Homo sapiens: one gene and its partners. The protein of the gene in region 1 purifies or fractionates together with the protein of each later gene. This does not show direct contact. Each region holds a gene or a part of one and is shown in the gene's direction. Other genes may lie near its edges.

Region 1 (5,373 bases):
GTTGCCCAGGCTGGAGTGGAGTGAGGTGATCTTGGCTCACTCCAACTTCCCCCTCTGGAGTACAAGTGATTCTCCCACATCAGCCTCCCTAGCAGCTGGGACTACAGGTGTATGCCATTATGCCTAGCTAATTTTTTTTTTTTTCCTGAGACGGAGTTTCGCTTTTGTTGCCCAGGCTGGAGTGCAGTGGCGCGATCTCGGCTCACTGCAACCTCCGCTTCCCAGGTTCAAGTGATTCTCCTGCCTCAGCCTCCTAAGTAGCTGGGATTACAGGCACGCGCCACCACGCCTGGCTAATTTTTTTTTTTTTTTTTTTTTTTGAGTAGAGACAGAGTTTCACCATGTTGGCCAGGATGGTCTCGATCTCTTGACCTTGTGATCTGCCCAGCTCAGCCTCCCAAAGTGTTGGGATTACAGGTGTGAGCCACTGCGCCCAGCATTTTTTTTTTTCCTTAGAGACAGGGTCTTGCTATGTTGCCCAGGCTGGTCTCAAACTCCTGGCCTCAAGCAGTCCTCTGACCTTGGCCTCCCAAAGTGTTAAGATTACAGGTGTGAGCCACCGTGCCTGGCCCCATCTGTTTCTATTGTTGTTGTTGTTTGTTTTGAGATAGGATCTCACTTTGTCGCTCAGGCTGGAGTGCAGTGGTACAATCTGCAGGTAGCAGCTAACTGCAACCTTGAACTCCTGGTCTCAAGGGATCCTCCTGCCTCAGCCTCCCAAGTAGCTGGGACTATAGGCATGCACCACCACACCCAGCTGATTTTGTGGTTGTTGTTTTGTTTTAGTAGAGACAGGGTCTTTACTAAATGTTGCCCAGTCTAGTCTTGAACTCCTGGACTTATGCGATCCTCTTGCCTTGGCCTCCCAAAGTGCTGGGATTACAGCACTGTGAACCACCGCGCCCAGCCTGACATTCCCATTTGAAGACACTTATTGGCCGGGTGTGGTGTCTCATGCCTGTAATCCCAGCTCTTTGGGAGGCAAAGATGGGCGGATCACCTGAGGTCAGGAGTTTGAGACCAGCCTGGCCAACATGGTGAAACCCTGTCTCTACTAAAAATACAAAAATTAGCCAGGCATGGTGTTGTGCACCTGTAATCCCAGCTACTTGGGAAGCTGGGGTGGGAGAATCACTTGAACCCTGGGGGTGGAGGTTGCAGTGAGCTGAGATCTTGCCACTGCACTCCAGCCTGGGTGACAAGAGCGAAACAAGAAAGAAAGAAAGAAAGAGAGAGAGAGAGAGAGAGAGAAAAGGAAGGAAAGAAAAGAAAGAAAGAAAGAAAGGAAAAGAAAGAAAAGAAAGAAAGAAAGGAAAGAAAGAAAGGAAGAAAAGAAGGAAAGAAAGGAAGAAAAGGAAAGAAAGAGAGAAAGAGAAAGAGAAAGAGAGAAAGAGAGAAAGGGAGAAAGGAAGGAAGGGAGGGAGGGAGGGAGGGAGGGGAAAAGAAAGGAAAGAAAAGAAAGAAACGTAAGAAAGAAGAAAAAAATTATTAATTAGTCTTAAAACACTTGCTGTCGCCAGGGAAAGGTGATGTTTCCAGGGATGGCCACAAGGTGGTGGAGTGGTACCCATGCCCAAAGTCTGGTGGGCAGTTGCCCATTTTACAGTATTGGGAGCTGGGAAAAGACCCTCAGAACCCAGGCACCTCCCAGAGACTCTGTGAGGGTTTGGGCAAAGGGTAGCTTCAAGTCATTAGGAATCTGCCTCTGGGTCCTTGGCTCCGGGATGTCTTGTATGCAAAGAGGATGGGGTGAAGTTGTGGGGTCGAGGTTAGGTGAAGTGGGGTCAGGACAGTGGGGACTGTCGCACCATCCCCAAAGTGAAGACTTTAATTTTTTAATTTTAATTATTTTATTTATTTATTTATTTATTTATTTATCTATTTATTTATTGAGATGGAGTTTCGCTCTTGTTGCCCAGGCTGGATTGCAATGGCACGATCTTGGCTCACTGCAACCTCCGCCTCCCGGGTTCATGCCATTCTCCTGCCTCAGCCTCCCGAGTAGCTGGGATTACAGGCACCCGCCACCATGCCTGGCTAATTTTTGTATTTTTAGTAGAGACGGTGTTTCACCATGTTGGCCAGGCTGGTCTCGAACTCCTGACCTCAGGTGATACGCCTGCCTCGGCCTCCCAAAGTGCTGGGATTACAGGCGAGAGCTACTGCCCCCGGACTCCAAGTGGGGACTTTCTGGCCTGAAACCCTCCTCCCCATTTCACTTGGCAGTACGAGGAGCGAGTGCTGAAAAAAATCCGCCGGAAAATCCGGAACAAGCAGTCGGCGCAAGAAAGCAGGAAGAAGAAGAAGGAATATATCGATGGCCTGGAGACTCGGTGGGTAGTGCTGGACCCAGACTCTACACTCGTGGAGGAAACTGAGGCCCAGAGAGAAGGAGATGTGGCTAAGGCCACACAGCTTAGAGTCTGACAAAATTGGAGGTGATTCTCCTCTCTGGGAGAGATCATGCTTCTTACTGATTGCAGGGATGGAAAGATGCCTAGTGATGGTGTAGGACAAGGGTTTGGGGGACCCTTTGCCCCCTAGAAGGTGTGCGGAAAAAGGACAAAGTGTGACCCATCCTATTCTGACCCTCTGCCTGAAGATAGACACTTCCTTTTTGTGTGTGTGGAAGGGTCTCCTTCTATCACCCAGGCTGGAGTGCAGTGGTGCGATCTTGGCTCACTGCAACCTCCACCTCCCGGGTTCAAGCGATTCTCCTGCCTCAGCCTCTCCAGAAGCTGGGATTACAGGTGCATGGCCACCACGCCCAGCTAATTTCTTTGTATTTTTGGTAGAGATGGGGTTTCACTGTGTTGCCCAGGCTAGTCTCAAACTCCTGACCTCAGGTGATCTGGCCGCCTCAGCCTCCCAAAGTGCTGGGATTACAGGCGTGAGCCACTGCGCCTGGTCTCTCCCCTTTCTTAAATGCAATCTGCTAAGCTCCTGATCATCTTTATCCAGGGTCATTCCCCCCACCACCCTATGTCCTGGGTAATTGTATCCCATTTTACAGACACAAAAGCTGAGATCAGAGAGTGGAGTGGCCCAAGGTCATGGGGAGAGGGAGAGATGAAACTTGAATCTCGGCCGGGCGCCGTGGCTCACACTTGTAATCCCAGCACTTTGGGAGGCTGAGGCAGGCGGATCACGAGTTCAGGAGATCGAGACCACGGTGAAACTCTGTCTTTACAAAAAATCCAAAAAAATTAACTGGGCTTGGTGGCGGGTGCCTGTAGTCCCAGCTACTCGGGAGGCTGAGGCAGGAGAATGGCGTGAACCCAGAAGGCAGAGCTTGCAGTGAGTCGAGATTGTGCCACTGCATTCCAGCCTGGGCGACAGAGCGAGACTCCATCTCAAAAAACAAACAAACAAAAAAAGAAACTTGAGTCTCCCAGGATGCCTGGTTGTCCTGATATTTCATCTTCTGGAAACATCACTGCCTGAATCTAGGAGGCTCAGCTTTTTTTTTTTTTTTTTTTTTTTTGACACAGAGTTTCATTCTTGTTGCCCAGGCTGGAGTGCAATGGTGCGATCTTGACTCACTGCAACCTCCACTTCCCGGGTTCAATCGATTCTCCTGCCTTAGCCTCCCAAGTTCCCAAGTAGCTGGAATTATAGGCGCCCACCACCACACCTGGCTAATTTTGCATTTTTAGTACAGGCAGGGTTTCACCATGTTGGCCAGGCTGGTCTTGAACTCCTGACCTCAGGTGATCCGCCCACCACGGCCTCCCAAAGTGCTGGGATTACAGGTGTGAACCACCACACCCATCCAGGGGGCTCAGCTTTGAATGAAGCCCCCTCCATATTAATGCAGAAATGGGACCTAGGAACCAGGCAGATGTGGGTTCAAATCCCAGCCCTGTCTGACCTGCCGAGTAACCTTGGATGAATGACTTCCCCTCTCTGGCCTTGGGTTCTCTTGGCTTGTAACGTGAGGCCTCTGGGGGAGATGTCAGTGGGGCCAGCTGGTGACTGGCATATGCTGAATGTCGATGCGTCTTCCTCCTTTCAGGATGTCAGCTTGCACTGCTCAGAATCAGGAGTTACAGAGGAAAGTCTTGCATCTCGAGAAGCAAAACCTGTGAGTCTGGGTCCAGCTGGGGCAGAGGACAGGGGAAGCAGCCCCAGAGTCCCTTTGCAGGAAGAGCAGAGAGCCCATGTGATGGCAGAATGACATAGGGAATAAGAGTTTTACCTATGGGCCGCGTGCAGTGGCTCACGCCTGTAATCTCAGCACTTTGGGAGGCCGAGGCGGGTGGATCACCTGAGGTCAGGAGTTCAAAACCAGCCTGGCCAACATGGTGAAACCCCGTCTCTACTAAAAATACAAAAAAATTAGCCAGGCGTGGTGGCGGGCACCTGCAGTCCCAGCTACTCGAGAGGCTGAGGCAGGAGAATTGCTTGAACTCGGGAGGCGGAGGTTGCCGTGAGCCGAGATCGCACCACTGCACTCCAGCCTGGGTGACAGAGCAAGGCTCTGTCTCAAAAATAAATAAATAAGGCCTGGTGTGGTGGCTCACGCCTGTAATCCCAGCACTTTGGGAGGCTGAGGTGGGCGGATCACAAGGTCGGGAGATCAAGACCATCCTGGCTAACACGGTGAAACCCCGTCTCTACTAAAAATACAAAAAAAATTAGCTGGGTGTGGTGGTGGGCGCCTGTAGTCCCAGCTACTCGGGAGGCTGAGGCAGGAGAATGGTGTGAACCTGGGAGGCGGAGCTTGCAGTGAGCTGCCATCCCACCACTCACTCCAGCCTGGGCGATGGAGCAAGACTCTGTCTCAAAATAAATAAATAAATAAATAAACAAATAAATAAATAAATAAAATAAATAATAAAGAGCCAGAGGCCCTTGAAGAATGGATGGAATTTGGACTTTAGCGGGGCTGGGGGACCCCGGAAATGGACGAGAAGCAGAACCGAGGCCCTTTAGGGCTCAGCGGAGGCCTGCCTGTCTCTCTAAGGTCCCTCTTGGAGCAACTGAAGAAACTCCAGGCCATTGTGGTGCAGTCCACCAGCAAGTCAGCCCAGACAGGCACCTGTGTCGCAGTGAGTCCTGGTGCCCCCAGGCAAGCCGGGGACCTAGGCTTCTGTAGAGGGGCCCATAGGGAGGTGACAATGAGTCCAAGCTCTCCTTGTGCCCCAGCTCAAGTATGATCCAGTCTGGTCTTTGGGGCCTCAGTTTCCCTGCCTGTGGGATGGAGATGCTTGCAGGGGAGGGGAGGGAGGGGGTGACTCTGCCGCTGTCTCCACCAGGTCCTGTTGCTGTCCTTTGCCCTCATCATCCTCCCCTCCATCAGCCCTTTTGGCCCCAACAAAACCGAGAGCCCTGGGGACTTTGCGCCTGTACGAGGTAGGGGATCCCCACCTT
Region 2 (4,436 bases), on another chromosome or scaffold:
TGTGAGGCTGATGTGACTCACTTATCTACTATCCTGACACAGAGCCCCACATCCTCAGTTCCTGGGACACTCACTGCCCTTGTTGTCAGCCTGTCCTCCCCACATCCACCCTGGACTTTGTGTCATCACCCAGAACTGCTCAGGGGAGGAGAGATCTGAAGCGAGTATCAGAGTGGCAGACGCTGGGGAGCTGAGTGTCCAGGGAATGGAAAAGGGCACGAAAGCTGGAAGGCCTGAGAAGTACCCACCCACCTCCTTGCTTGATCATGACTGCAGTGTGGCCCAGGGGGAGCGTGTTTTCTCTTGGCAATCAGCTTACAGGAGGCATGGCCAGCACTCATGGCCTGCATTGGTAGGCCTAGGCTCCTGGGGCTACCCCACACTTCCATGTTGGGAAGGGAGGGGGAGAGTGAGGGAGTAGGATAGCCTTACCCCAGCCCCCTTTCAGAACCCCAAGACCTAGTAAGATTCCCCCCACTAAAGCCCCTGAATCCCACAAAATATAAGACAGCAGTGGCCCTTCTAGTATCCCCTAAGAGCAAAGGTGTGTCCTTAGCATCCATGTGGGCTCCCTCCACCCTGAAATCTCTGTCTACAAACCTGAGCCTGCAAGTGGCAGGGCTAATCAAGATTCCCTGTGGCCCCACGGGGAGCCGACAATCTCAGTTGCTGGCCTGTTGTTCTTGTTCACTGTAGAGTGACCACATATGGGCAGCTGGTGTAATAATTAGCTCATGGGCACTGCAGACCACCTAAGCCCACAGGTGAAAAGGAGCTGCCCACTCACCTGTCAAAGCCCCTGGCTCTCACAGCTGCTCATCTGCTGTGTGCACAGAACATAGTGCTAAGGATGGGGAGAGGGATTGCTGTGGGACAAAGGGACAGTGAGGAGGCAGGGGGAGAAAGTCAGACAAGGGCCTCTCCAGGGAACTTATGGTCTTGAGACAGAATTTTAGATGCCAGCCCTAGAAGGGGCCCAGGACAGCCCACCTCTTTTTTAACAGGTGATTTGGTTTCAAATAATGCAGGGTGGGAAAATGAGCCCAGAGAAGAAGAAATGGCTAACAGTGGCCTTTCTGAGGGAACACCAGCAGGACATTAAGAGAAAGCCATGTCTGAATAGCTAAGAAAGTCTTTATTGTGTTTTGTTTTTGAGACAGTCTCGTGCTGTCCCCCAGGCTGGAGTGCAACGGCATGATCTTGGCTCACTGCAACCTCCACCCCCCATTTCAAGCGATTCTCATGTCTCAGCCTCCCGAGTAGCTGGGATTACAGGCATGTGCCACCACACCCAGCTAATTTTGTATTTATAGTAGAGACGGAGTTTTGCCATGTTGGCCAGGCTGGTCTCAAACTCCTGACCTCAAATGATCCACCTGCCTCAGCCTCCCAAAGTGCTGGGATTACAGGCATGAGCCACTGCACCCAGCCTGCCAAGAAAATATTTATATTGGGCACAGTTAAATCTTAGGCACCATAGGAGCAGATTTATCTAATAAGGAGTAATGAGAGACCCAGAAAATGTAATCTCTCAATCACAGCAATGAGGGAATTATTCAGTGCTATGCTGGGCTAGTCACTCTTTCATTCATGATGCTAACTTCTTCCAGTAAGTATTTAAAATACATGCTATATATAAAACATATATTAATATGATATGTTAATATTAATTATATGTTAATGTAACATTAAGTAACAAGAAAAGGTAAAATAGGTTGGGCATGGTGGTTCATGTCTGTAATCCCAGCACTTTGGGAGGCCGAGGTGGGCGGATTGCCTGAGGTCAGGAGCTCCAGACCAGTCTGGCCAACATGGTGGAACCCCGTCTCTACTAAAAATACAAAAAAATTAGCTGGGCGTGGTGGCATGCACCTGTAATCCCAGCTACTTGGGAGGCTAAGACAGGGGAATTGCTTGAACCAGGACGGTGGAGGTTCCAGTGAGCCGAGATCGTGCCACTGCACTCCAGCCTGGGCGACAGAGCAAGACTCCACCTCAAAAAAAAAAAAAAAAAGGTAAAATAAAAACAATGGCAGGAAAGTCAGATGAAGCTGAAGTCAGGGCTTATGTCCAAACATTTAGGCCCTGAGTACAAACGTCTTCATTTGCCCCCTGGACTCTCAGGAGCCCCTACAGTTTTCCCTCTGGTGGATTTTGTGCTTTGGGTGGATCCTTGACCACGTGCTGGGGATACAAGTCTGAGTAAGACATAGTCTCTGTCCTCAAAGGTCTGATGGTCCAGCAGGGGACACAAAAGGGTTAAAAACAAAACAAAAAAAAATACACAGTGAACCTATCTGTGCCCAGGGTGAGCCATCCTGCTATCTTATTTTTCCAACTGAAATTGCACAGACCTCCCAGTTCCGTATTTTCCAGCCAATTCAAGGCAGGGGAGAAAGGAGGAACAGGTGGGAGGGAGGTCTCGCCCTGGACTCTGACTCAAAGACTCTTCCCACCCTAGCCATAGCCACTAAACCCTGGATGGCTCAACATCTCTGGCCCTGCCCCCACGATCTGGGTCATAGGTGCCTGGCTGCCTCCATTCTCCCAGCCTTGAACCCTCAGCTCACAGGGCTGTGCTCCAGCTGCCCTTCCAACAGGCTGACAACCTTCAGGCCAGACGGAGAAGAGCTGGGCTTCTCCATACCACAGCAGGCAGGTGACTCACTGAGAGCCCAGACGAGACTGTATAATCCACAGTCTATTGGCCTCTCATCTTCAGGCTCACTGTCTGTGGTCACGAGATGGTCGCAATCGCTTTCAGGTTCTCATGCAGAAGTGTCCAACGAAGAAAGGTAGGGAGGGGTCAGCCAGGGCAGCCAAACAGCTCTCCTCACATTTCTCTCTTACCAGGGAGGAACACCTTCCCCGGAAGTCCTTCCAGGAGATTCCTGTCCCTGTTTGATTGAATCACATGGCCTCCCCTTATTGCAAGAGAGGCAGGGAAGGCAACAGCTGGTGTGACATGGAAAGGACCTTCTTTCAGTAGGAAAGGGACATTGACCATAGTATCCTCCATGCTTCACACCTTCTCCCATTTTCAGTGGTGGCTTAGTAGACTCAGTGTTAAGATGCCTCCCCCAAGTGACGTCTGTCACAAAGAATCACTCACGGATGATTAGGACATAAATCCCCAAGGTGGAATTATTCCATCAGCTTCTCTCAAAGCCACTCTTCCCCACTCCTAGAAGCAAAGGAAGTCAAGAGTTATTAAACATCTGCTACAAGCAAGGTATTTCTCCCGGAGCCTTCATCTGCCAACACACTTGACTCCTTATAATACTCATTCCAAGTATAAATAATCATCCTCATTCCACAAGGGGTGGGGGAGCTAGGTCTGCCTCCAGGGCTGTCTGCCACCAAAGCTCTTGCTTTCCGCCCCAGGCCATGGATTCCCAGGGAGGCCCCACTGGCTGCCTCCCATATGACACCATTGATCTCGGGCAGGAGCAGACAAGTGAAAGAGGCTCATTCTCTGCCCCCACCCCCGCTGTGGTTGAAGAAGCTACTCCAAGCAGAAGGTTGTGTATTACTAGTTTGTGTGTCACACAGGAGAGGGGTCAGGGGCTTGGGAGCAAGGTCCCACCATCTCTGTCTGCAGCTTGATCACCCATTGACCTCATGGTCCCCTGGTGGGTGGTGTGGAGTACACATTTGGAGAGAGGACCCCACAGGGGGCTTCCAGAGCCCTGAACTGACCCAATGAGTCCACTGCAGGGAGAGGCCAAAAGGACCTCTTCAGGAGAGAGCCTGAGGCTGCAGGCACTTCTTCGGTCAGTATTCACATGTGCTTAGGGCCACACAGGGAACTGTGGGGGCACCTGGGAGAGCCCTCATCCTAGGCTGGATGACTGGAAGACTGGAATCCCATGGGAATTCATGGCAAGGGGAGGGCCCTCTGTGCAGCTGGATGGGCAGGGAAGACTTCTTGAGGAAGGAGAGGTATGGCTGAAGTTTTAACCTAGTACAGCTAAGTGGAAAGGCAACTCAATCAAAAAAGAGAAAATGGAAGTACAGAAGAACAGCCTGGAGGTCAGAGAAGGACAGCAAGGAGACCCATCTGTCCAGAGCCAGAAATGCCATACGGTGGCCAGTGGTTGTCTGGGTGTGGGAGGTGAGTTGAGTTTCTGAGACAAAGACTGAAGCTTCTTATGAATGAAAACTATGCCTCACCGATTCCCAGCAGTCAGCGTGATGCCTGGCATGGAGAAGGTGCTCGATAAATAACTATTTATGGAATGAGGGAATAAATGAATGTTTGAGTCCATCCTGTCCCACCAAAGTGCCCCTGCAAACCTGGCATAGCCTGGCCTGCCTTCCTTCTCCCAAGGATCACAGAGGCCATGTGCTCAAGATACATCCCAAACCCAATTTGTTATTCCTGATTTGTTTTTCTCTTGAAAGTTTCCTAGATGGAACCCTCTTAATTAGAAACC
Region 3 (4,436 bases), about 40 Mb from region 1:
ACAGCACTATTGTTCTGATAGGGGGTTGGGGAGCAGGCCCCTGGGGCAGGAAACTGGCCCTCTTCCCCTGCTCAGAGGCGGGATGCTGGCCCAGCCAGGGGAGCTGGCAGCCCTCTTAGGAGAAACAGGTGCAATGCTTTGTAAGGACGCCCAGGTGGTCCCCTCCCCCTGCAAATACCCGCCAGGCAGGGACCAACCCCTCTTAGGAAATCCAACAGTCCCAGTCCCCTCTAAATCCCTCTCTCCAGAATTCTAGATTCCTCCAAGGTTGTGCCACACAAAGAGAGGAAAAAAAAAAAAAGGAACAATTTCTCCGTGGTTTCTGGAGGCCCTGTGCTTCCGGCCAGATCTGCCCTGGGCTTAGAGCCAGAAGAGAGGGGTGGCAGTGGGGAGCTGCAGGGGGGCAGAACCGAGGGGGCTGTCTCAGAGCTGAGGCTGGGTCTCAGGGACTCAGCCCTCCGGATGAGAGCAGAGAAGGGTGTGACTCAGTCTTTGAGGATTGAATGGTAGTTTCTACATTCTTCCAGATCTGGGGTTGGGGTTGATTGAAGTTGGTTTCTAGGACAACACCAGGTGGGTAGGAAGGGAAGGGGAGGGGGCACTCTCTAGAGGCTAGATGTCTTTTTCTAGACACCACACACACACACCCACACACACACACACACACACACACACCTGAAGAACTATTTTTGATGTGAAATGGGACAGGAATAAGAAGGAATGTGAGTTTCAAGGTCCCCCTTCATGGGTATGGGTCTTGGGAGAAGAGCTGAGGAAGAGGGTAGACACCAGCATCTGGACAGGGTTGTCCTGTTGGGGAGAAAGAGAGCATTCCTGGGGACCAGATGATGGTGTTTTTTTGTTTGTTTGTTTGCTTGCTTGCTTGTTTCGAGACGGAGACTCGCTCTGTTGCCCAGGCTGGAGTGCAGTGGCGCGATCTCTCAGCTCACTGCAACTTCCACCTCCTGGGTTCAAGATTCTGGTTCCTCAGCCTCCCAAGTAGCTGGGATTACACACCCAGCTAATTTTTTGTTTTTTTAGTAGAGACTGGGTTTCACCATGTTGGCCAGGGGGTCTCAAACTCCCGACCTTCGGTGATCCACCTGCCTCAGCCTCCCAGAGTGTTGGGATTACAGGTGTGAGCCACCGCACTGGGCCCAGATGATGGTTTTGAGACTTCTCCAGAACCGACACATCAAGAGGGACTGATTTGCAGGGGAAGGAGGCTAGGAAAATTGGGAATCAAAAAAAAAAAATGGTGGTTTTGAAGGAAAGGTGGAGGGCCAGGCGGAGGGAGACCTGGGATCTCACACCGCTTTTTCCGTCCCCCCTGACAGTGGGCGCTCTACCTGTTCCTGGTTAAATGCACGATCAGCATTTCCACCTTCTTACTCCTCTGCCTCATCGTGGCCTTTCATGCCAAAGAGGTCCAGGTAGGGCAGGCCCCGCCCCTAAGCCTTGCTCCCTCCAACCCCCTCAGCGCCCTGTCAGCTCACACTTTCCACCCTCCTCCTCCTCCTGATCTGAGTAATGAAGTTCTTCTGCCCTAGGTGCTGCGTCCACACCCTCACCTACCCAGATGGGATGAACCATGAGCAGACAGGCAGAGCCTCCCCCACCAGCTCCGCCTTCCCCTGTAGTCCCCAGCCCCCCCTTGCACACTCACGGATGCTGAGAGTGCCCTTGCAGCCCTGCTTCCGCCCCCAGGCCTCTGTCCACTCTGCTCCCAGGCACTCAGCTTCCCAGATCTCTGTGCTCCGACATGGCATCCCCAATCCAGTCCTCAAGCAACCTAAGGTCCTAGGGCTGCCCACTCCTTTTTTTTTTTTTTTTTTTTTTTTTTTTTGAGACAAGGTCTTGCTCTGTTGCCCAGGCTAGAGTGGAGTGGCACGATCTCTGCTCACTGCAACCTCCACCTCCTGGGTTCAAACAATTCTCATGCCTCAGCCTCCCAAGTAGCTGTGACTACAGGCAGATGCCACCACGCCCAGCTAATTTTTTTGTATTTTAGTAGAAACGGGGTTTCACTATGTTGTCCAGGCTGGTCTCCAACTACTGAGCTCAAGCAGTCTGCCCACCTTGTCCTCCCAAAGTGCTAGGATTACGGGCTTGAGCCACTGCACCTGGTCCGGTCCCAGGGGTGCCCACTCCTAATCACCCTATCTCTGTGCCAATAACCTCCCTCTTGCCCCAGACCCAGGAGCTCTCCCCATCCATACCCCACCTTGGGTCTCACCCAGACACATCCCATCCCCTATTGTCCCATTGCCCCAGATCCTGTTGCTCCATTCCCTTTCCCCTCTTCCCCCTCTCCTATCATAACTTTGCATGTAAAATGGGGATTATTGGCCATGTGTGGCAATTCTATGAGCAGTGCCTGGCACATAAGAGGTGCTCAGTAAACAGTGCACATTATCATCTTATCATAGAGTAGCTAAGTAGCCTGTAGCCCAGTGCGCCATTGCCCATGGAAGGGACCTGGGCCTCAGCTTCCACATCTATAAAATGGGGGCAATAATAATATCAATCTCACTGGGTTGTGGGCATTTACTAAGTCACAATATGTAAACGGGATAGAGCAGTACCTGGCGTATCCACGGTGCCCAGTACATGCTGATTTTGTTATTGTTATTGTTTTGTTTATTTTGAGATGGAGTCTCGCTCTGTCACCCAGGCTAGAGTGCAGTGGCATGACCTCAGCTCACTGCAACCTCTGCCTCCTGGGTTCAAGTGATTCTCCTACCTCAGACTCCCCAGAAGCTGGGACTATAGGTGTGCGCCACCATGCCCGGCTTATTTTTGTATTTTTCAGTAGAGATGGAGTTTCACCATGTTGGCCAGGCTTGTCTCAAACTCTTGACCTCAAGTGATCCACCCACCGCAGCCTCCCAAAGTGCTGGGATTACAGGCGTAAGCCATCGCGCCCGGCCCATGGCTTTGTTATTGCTGATATTATTATTACAGTTATTACGCGTGTCAACCGAAAGGGGAGTAGGAGCGAGCTCCAGGCATGTGGAATGCAAGCTCTAGGGAGGCAGGGGGGTCTGTTGGGTTCACTGTGTATCCTTAGCACATAGAACAATGTCAGGCACACAGTCGGCGCTCAGTCAGTGTTCAAAGGCTGGAAGTGGGCTGAAACTAGTGGGGTGGGTGGTGGGGAAGGAGGAAAAAGTGGAAAGATGTCTTCCTCAAGTCCTGTCCCGCTCCCTCCCTATCCCTCTCCCGCCCTGCACTCCCTCCCTCCTGGCCAGGCGGCACACCCCACTTATCTCAGGGCGCAGGCAGGCGCGGGCCGCCGCCTGACCTGCGCCTGACCTGCTCCTGACCCCTCCCTTCTTGGCCCCCTACCGGCAGCTGTTCATGACCGACAACGGGCTGCGGGACTGGCGCGTGGCGCTGACCGGGCGGCAGGCGGCGCAGATCGTGCTGGAGCTGGTGGTGTGTGGGCTGCACCCGGCGCCCGTGCGGGGCCCGCCGTGCGTGCAGGATTTAGGGGCGCCGCTGACCTCCCCGCAGCCCTGGCCGGGATTCCTGGGCCAAGGGGAAGCGCTGCTGTCCCTGGCCATGCTGCTGCGTCTCTACCTGGTGCCCCGCGCCGTGCTCCTGCGCAGCGGCGTCCTGCTCAACGCTTCCTACCGCAGCATCGGCGCTCTCAATCAAGTCCGCTTCCGCCACTGGTTCGTGGCCAAGCTTTACATGAACACGCACCCTGGCCGCCTGCTGCTCGGCCTCACGCTTGGCCTCTGGCTGACCACCGCCTGGGTGCTGTCCGTGGCCGAGAGGTGAGGGTGATGGAGGCATAAATGCGCAGGGGGGAACCCCGGACAGCCACGGCGGCCGTCCTGTGCCGCGGTGCAGGTTGAGGCCCCCTAGGACCAAGCAGTGGAGAAAGTTCACACTTTGACCCCTTCTCCTCTTGCTGGCTGAAATTTGCCCACACTCCCATCAACTGGGGTGAGAGGAACCAACAGACAAGCCCCCAGCCAATCCTCCACCTGCAGCCTTCAGTCTCCCCAAACGCACACACAGACCCTAGAAAGCCCCTCCCTTCCGGCTGCCTGACCTCTGCCTCAGGTTTACAGGCCATCTGTTCGGTCTCCGAACCTATCTCTGGGACCTGCCTAAAGGGTTGCCTCTGCCTTGGAGGAAGGAGACATATTTTCCCAATTAGCACGGAATGCACTGTAGGTAGGTGCTTTTTGTGATCCTAGGAAGGGGATGATTTGGAACTGCTCTGGAAAATAATTCCAAGCAGGGAATTGGAACTAGATCCTGGTTGCCAGCTAGATACTGTGTAACCCGATGCCGCGCCTCAATTTCTATCCCTTTCAGAGAAAAACGAGGTTGGGAGTGATCTCAGCCAGTGGTCCTCAAAGTGTGATTTCAAGACCAGCAGCATCACCTGGGAACTTGCAAATGAAAACTCTCAGGTCCCT
Region 4 (4,436 bases), on another chromosome or scaffold:
CTCTTCATTACAGAGTAACATTTCATGGCATGAATTTACCAGATTACCTAACCATTCATCCATTGAAGGACATCTAGGTTGTTTCCATTTTGGGGTTATTAGGAATAAAGCAGCTATAAATATTTATATACAGGTTTTTTGTGAAAAGAGGTTTTCATTTTTCTGGAATAAATGCCCAAGAGTATAATTGCTTGGTTGTATAATAGTTGCATTACATGTTTAGTTTCCTAAGAAACTACCATACTGTTCTTCAGCATGGCTATACCATTTTACATTTTTATCAGCGATGTATGAGTGACAATTTCTTTGCATTTTCTCCAGCATTTGGTGTTATCACTGTTTTTAATTTTGGCCATTCTGCTAGGTTTGTAGTGCTAATATAATTGTGGTTTTAATTTGCATTTTCCTAATGGCTAATGGCATTGAACATCTTTCCATGTGTTCATTTACTATCGGTATCTTCAGTGATATGTCAGTTCATTATCTTTTGCCAACTTTTAAATTGTATTGCTGGATTTTTACTGTCGAGTTACGAGAATTTAAAAATGTATATTTTAGATACTAGCTTTCTGTCAAATATTTGGTTCGTTCATGATTTGTTCTAGTCTGTAGTCTTTTCCTTCTTTTAAGATGGCCTTTTGCAATACTAAAGTTTTTAGTTTTGAGGAAAACTAATTTATCAATTTTGTTTATGGAATCTGAGAACTTCCTGCTTAGCTTTAGATCCTAATGATTTTCTTCTATTTTTTCCCTAAAAGTTTTGTAGTCTTCTGTTTTAAATTGTACACTTGTGATTCATTTTGAGTTAAATTTTGTATAGAATGTGAGGTTAGTCTTAAAATTGCGTGGAGTGATAACTCCTACTTTATTTCTCTTTTTCAAAATTATAATCGGTATTCTAGGTCCTTTACCTTTCAGTATAAATTTTAGAATCTTCTCTACATCAACAAATGTCTTGCTGAGGTTTTTTTGTTTTTGTTTTTGTTTTTGTCTGTTTTTTGAGATATTCTTGCTCTGTTGCCCAGGCTAGAATGCAGTGGTACAATCATAGCTCACTGTAACCTTGAACTTCTGAGCTTTTTTCTTTCATTCTCCTGATAGTATCTTTCGTGGAGCAGAAATTGTTAAGTTTAATGAAATTCAGCATATTGATTATTTCTTTCATGGGTCATGCCTTTGATGTCCTATCTAAGAAGTCATTATCTAAAAAGTCATTATTGGCCGAGCGCAGTGGCCCAATGCCTGTAATCCCAGCACTTTGGGAGGCCGAGGCAGGCAGATCAGGAAGTCAGGAGTTCAAGACCAGCCTGGTCAACATGGTGAAACCCCATCTCTACTAAAAATACAAAAATTAGCTGGGCATGGTGGCGCATTCCTACTTGGGAGGCTGAGGCAGGAGAATTGCGTCAGCTGGGACCCGGGCAGCGGAGGTTGCAGTGAGCTGAGATCGTGCCACTGCACTCCAGCCAGGGCTACAGAGCGAGACTCCGTCTCTAAAAAAAGAGTCATTATCAACCCAAGGTTGTCTAAATTTTCTTCTATGTTATCTTTTAGGAATTTTGTAATTCTGCATTTTACATTGAGGTCTGTGGTCCATTTTGAATTAATTCTTGTGAACGGTGTAAGGTTATTGTCTAGATTTATTCTTTTTGCATGTGGATGTCCAGGTGTTCCAGCCCCATTTGTTGAAAACACTACTTATGCTCTGTTGTATTGCTTTTGCTCCTTCGTTAAATATCCGTTTATTATGTTTATGTGGGTCTATTTTTGTATGTTTATGTGGGTCTATTTTTGTACCTTCTATTTTGTCCCATTGATTTATTTGTGTGTCCTTTCACCAGTACCACACTGCTGTGATTACTTAAACTTTATAATACGTCTTGAAGTTGGGTAGTTTCCGTCCTCCAGCTTTGTTCTTCTCCTTCAATATTGTTCCATTGAGTTTTTAATTTTGGTTATTGTAATGTTCAGTTCTAAAATTGCAATTTGTTCTTTATTTTATATCTTCTTTTTTTCCTAAAACTTTGTAATTTTAATTTTTTAGAATGTTCATAATATCTTGTTGAAGCATTTTTATGACTGCTTTAATACCTTTCATAATTCTAACATCTTTGTGACACCCTTGCTTGATTTATTTTTTTCATTGAATTTGAAGTCTTCCTGGTTCTTTTTGTGATGAGCAATTTTCTTTTATTGCAACCTGGGTATATTGAGTATTATATTACAAGACCATGGATCTTATGTAAATCTTCTGATTTAGCTGGGTTTGTTGTGATTGTTTCTTTGTCTTTTTAAAAATGCTACTCTGGCAGCGAAAGGAACAGGGTAGATTGAAGTCTAGGTATTCCTCTTAGCCTCTGTTGACACCTTTGGCCAAGGGGTGCCTTGTTACTGCTGGATGAGGGTAGAAGTTCTGACATCCCACGAGGTCTTATGCCTGGTAGGGACAGGAGTACTTTGTCACTCCTCCCCATATGGTATGCACTGACACCAGTGGAGGATGGCCTTGTTATCACTGGTTGGGGACAAAAATCCTAACTCTACTCCATCTTCTCTGACATTGCCCCAGTGTAAAAGAGGGAAGAACACTGGGTTGCCGCCAGTGGAGGTGGAAGTTCAGGTTCCCCATGTGATGTTCATTGTTTGCAGGGAGGCTTGTTACTGGCACCCTGTTCAGCCTGTTCCTGATGCTACTGTGGTGGAAGGGTTGGAGTACCTCATTACTGCCTGTCAAGGATAGAAGTCTAGGATCTGTACTCAGCCTTTGAGAGTGTGTAGGGATGGTGCCACATTTTCTTCTGTGGTGTTTGGCTAGAGTAGAATGGTTATCATCTAAGTGTTTTCTGACTTGCTGGGTTCTCTTTCTTTGGCATTAAGTTTTGTCTTTTCAGTTCATTTCAAATTTACCATTTTATGTCTTACACTTTTTTAACTGCCACAAGATATACTGGATAATAAAAATCATAATTGAAATTTCAAACAATGCTTTTTGATATATTAAACTTATTTTCCTTTTTATGTTTTCCCTCCCCTCACTCAAAGGTGAAGATTTTACTGAAGTACATCAGAATTGGAATGCTCATAGCTCTGCTTCAGAGCATGCAAAAGGATATCGTAACAGAGAATTCACACGAGGATTTTCCAGGGCCAGATACCCTCGATCTTGCCATGGCAGGCCTCCACCTCAGCATTTCTATAACTCAGAACATATGGTATCTCAGGAGACTTCAGGATTTCCTTCTCAGAGACAAAATAATCCCATTATGCCACAATACCCCTTTCCTCTTCCAGTGTTTGACATGCATAATTTTCCCCTCCGCCCTCCACCCCCACCACCACCCCCACCTGTAAACATGGGTTGGGCTACACCAAACATGGCTGCTCATCCATTACTTAACTTACCATACTCCCTACCCCCACCCCCTCCCCCTCCACCACTGCCTCCTCCACCCTCTTCTGGAGATAGTAATTCTCATTTTGGACCTTACTATTAGGTGACTATGCATTTCCAGAGAAATGTGGACTTTTCATATTATGTGGTAAGGATTTTTTTTTTTCAAGAGTGATTATGGAGCTAGATTTTTAAAAACACTGTAAAATACTAAATGATTCCTTCTGTTGTAAGTTGATATATATTTGTAACCTTTGTGAAATTGTATTCATATGAAAATGTCAGCTCAAATTCTTGGGAGAACATTAAATTATGTAATATTTAATTAAAATTTTGAATTCATGCCTTCTCCCTCCCAACCCCACCCAGTTAAACTATATATATATATATATAGTAATGGATATGGGACAAGTTTCATCATGGGTAAAATATATGGAGCACATTGATTTTCTTGCTATAATCTGAATATAAGATGAAGTCCTTTTGAGAGTCTTTAAACTATTTTTATAAATTTATACTTTGGAAATCAATTTTAATTATAAATGTAATTTGTGAGTAAGTTTAAATGACCATAATTTTTCTTTTTAAAGCAGTTGAGGGATATAGAGGAGAAAATTCTTATATATTGGTAGAAGCTCTGATTATAGCTAAAGTAAAAAATATTTATTATGCATAGGCAAGCTTCCATTATCTGTGCAAAATAATTCCTTTATTTGGGCACTGTTCAGAAGGCTTTACTATTTAACCTCCTAAAAGGGATGCAAAGATTATTCACAATAAGATCTATTTAGGGATTTTGTCTTCCATATTTGTTTTCCAGATCCTCACATGCAGACTAGGTTCCATAAATAACAAATAGTTATTGAATATCTGAATTAAGAGTTTTTAATTAAATGAGTAATGACTACTGCTTTATATTATGAAGTGTCAATGTAAGGGAAATTATGAGTTTTAGAACTAGAAGAGACCATTGAAATACTCCAGTTTTCATTTAGTAAATGAGGAGCCTAAGTGTTCCAAAGAGGTTAAAATAATTTAACTAAGA

Evidence for each region. Proteins that work in one complex are often made in the same cells at the same time.
Region 2: the proteins of CREB3L3 (region 1) and MAPK4 purify together in Homo sapiens (affinity purification with mass spectrometry; one large-scale study listed by BioGRID and IntAct). This does not show direct contact.
Region 3: the proteins of CREB3L3 (region 1) and KCNN4 purify together in Homo sapiens (affinity purification with mass spectrometry; one large-scale study listed by BioGRID and IntAct). This does not show direct contact.
Region 4: the proteins of CREB3L3 (region 1) and NAF1 purify together in Homo sapiens (affinity purification with mass spectrometry; one large-scale study listed by BioGRID and IntAct). This does not show direct contact.

What each region holds. Positions count from the first base shown.
Region 1 is NC_000019.10:4,166,125-4,171,497, forward strand, and holds part of CREB3L3 (cyclic AMP-responsive element-binding protein 3-like protein 3), read left to right. Parts: intron 1-2,226; coding exon 2,227-2,333; intron 2,334-4,015; coding exon 4,016-4,084; intron 4,085-4,966; coding exon 4,967-5,051; intron 5,052-5,258; coding exon 5,259-5,355; intron 5,356-5,373. UniProt on the Homo sapiens protein: Transcription factor that may act during endoplasmic reticulum stress by activating unfolded protein response target genes. Activated in response to cAMP stimulation. In vitro, binds to the cAMP response element (CRE) and box-B element.
Region 2 is NC_000018.10:50,717,087-50,721,522, forward strand, and holds part of MAPK4 (mitogen-activated protein kinase 4), read left to right. Parts: intron 1-4,436. UniProt on the Homo sapiens protein: Atypical MAPK protein. Phosphorylates microtubule-associated protein 2 (MAP2) and MAPKAPK5.
Region 3 is NC_000019.10:43,773,538-43,777,973, reverse strand, and holds part of KCNN4 (intermediate conductance calcium-activated potassium channel protein 4), read left to right. Parts: intron 1-1,337; coding exon 1,338-1,433; intron 1,434-3,354; coding exon 3,355-3,782; intron 3,783-4,073; exon of another isoform or gene 4,074-4,074; coding exon of another isoform or gene 4,075-4,171; exon of another isoform or gene 4,172-4,177; coding exon of another isoform or gene 4,178-4,188; intron 4,189-4,436. UniProt on the Homo sapiens protein: Intermediate conductance calcium-activated potassium channel that mediates the voltage-independent transmembrane transfer of potassium across the cell membrane through a constitutive interaction with calmodulin which binds the intracellular calcium allowing its opening.
Region 4 is NC_000004.12:163,127,955-163,132,390, reverse strand, and holds the end of NAF1 (H/ACA ribonucleoprotein complex non-core subunit NAF1), read left to right. Parts: intron 1-3,042; coding exon 3,043-3,494; 3' UTR 3,495-3,722; downstream 3,723-4,436. UniProt on the Homo sapiens protein: RNA-binding protein required for the maturation of box H/ACA snoRNPs complex and ribosome biogenesis.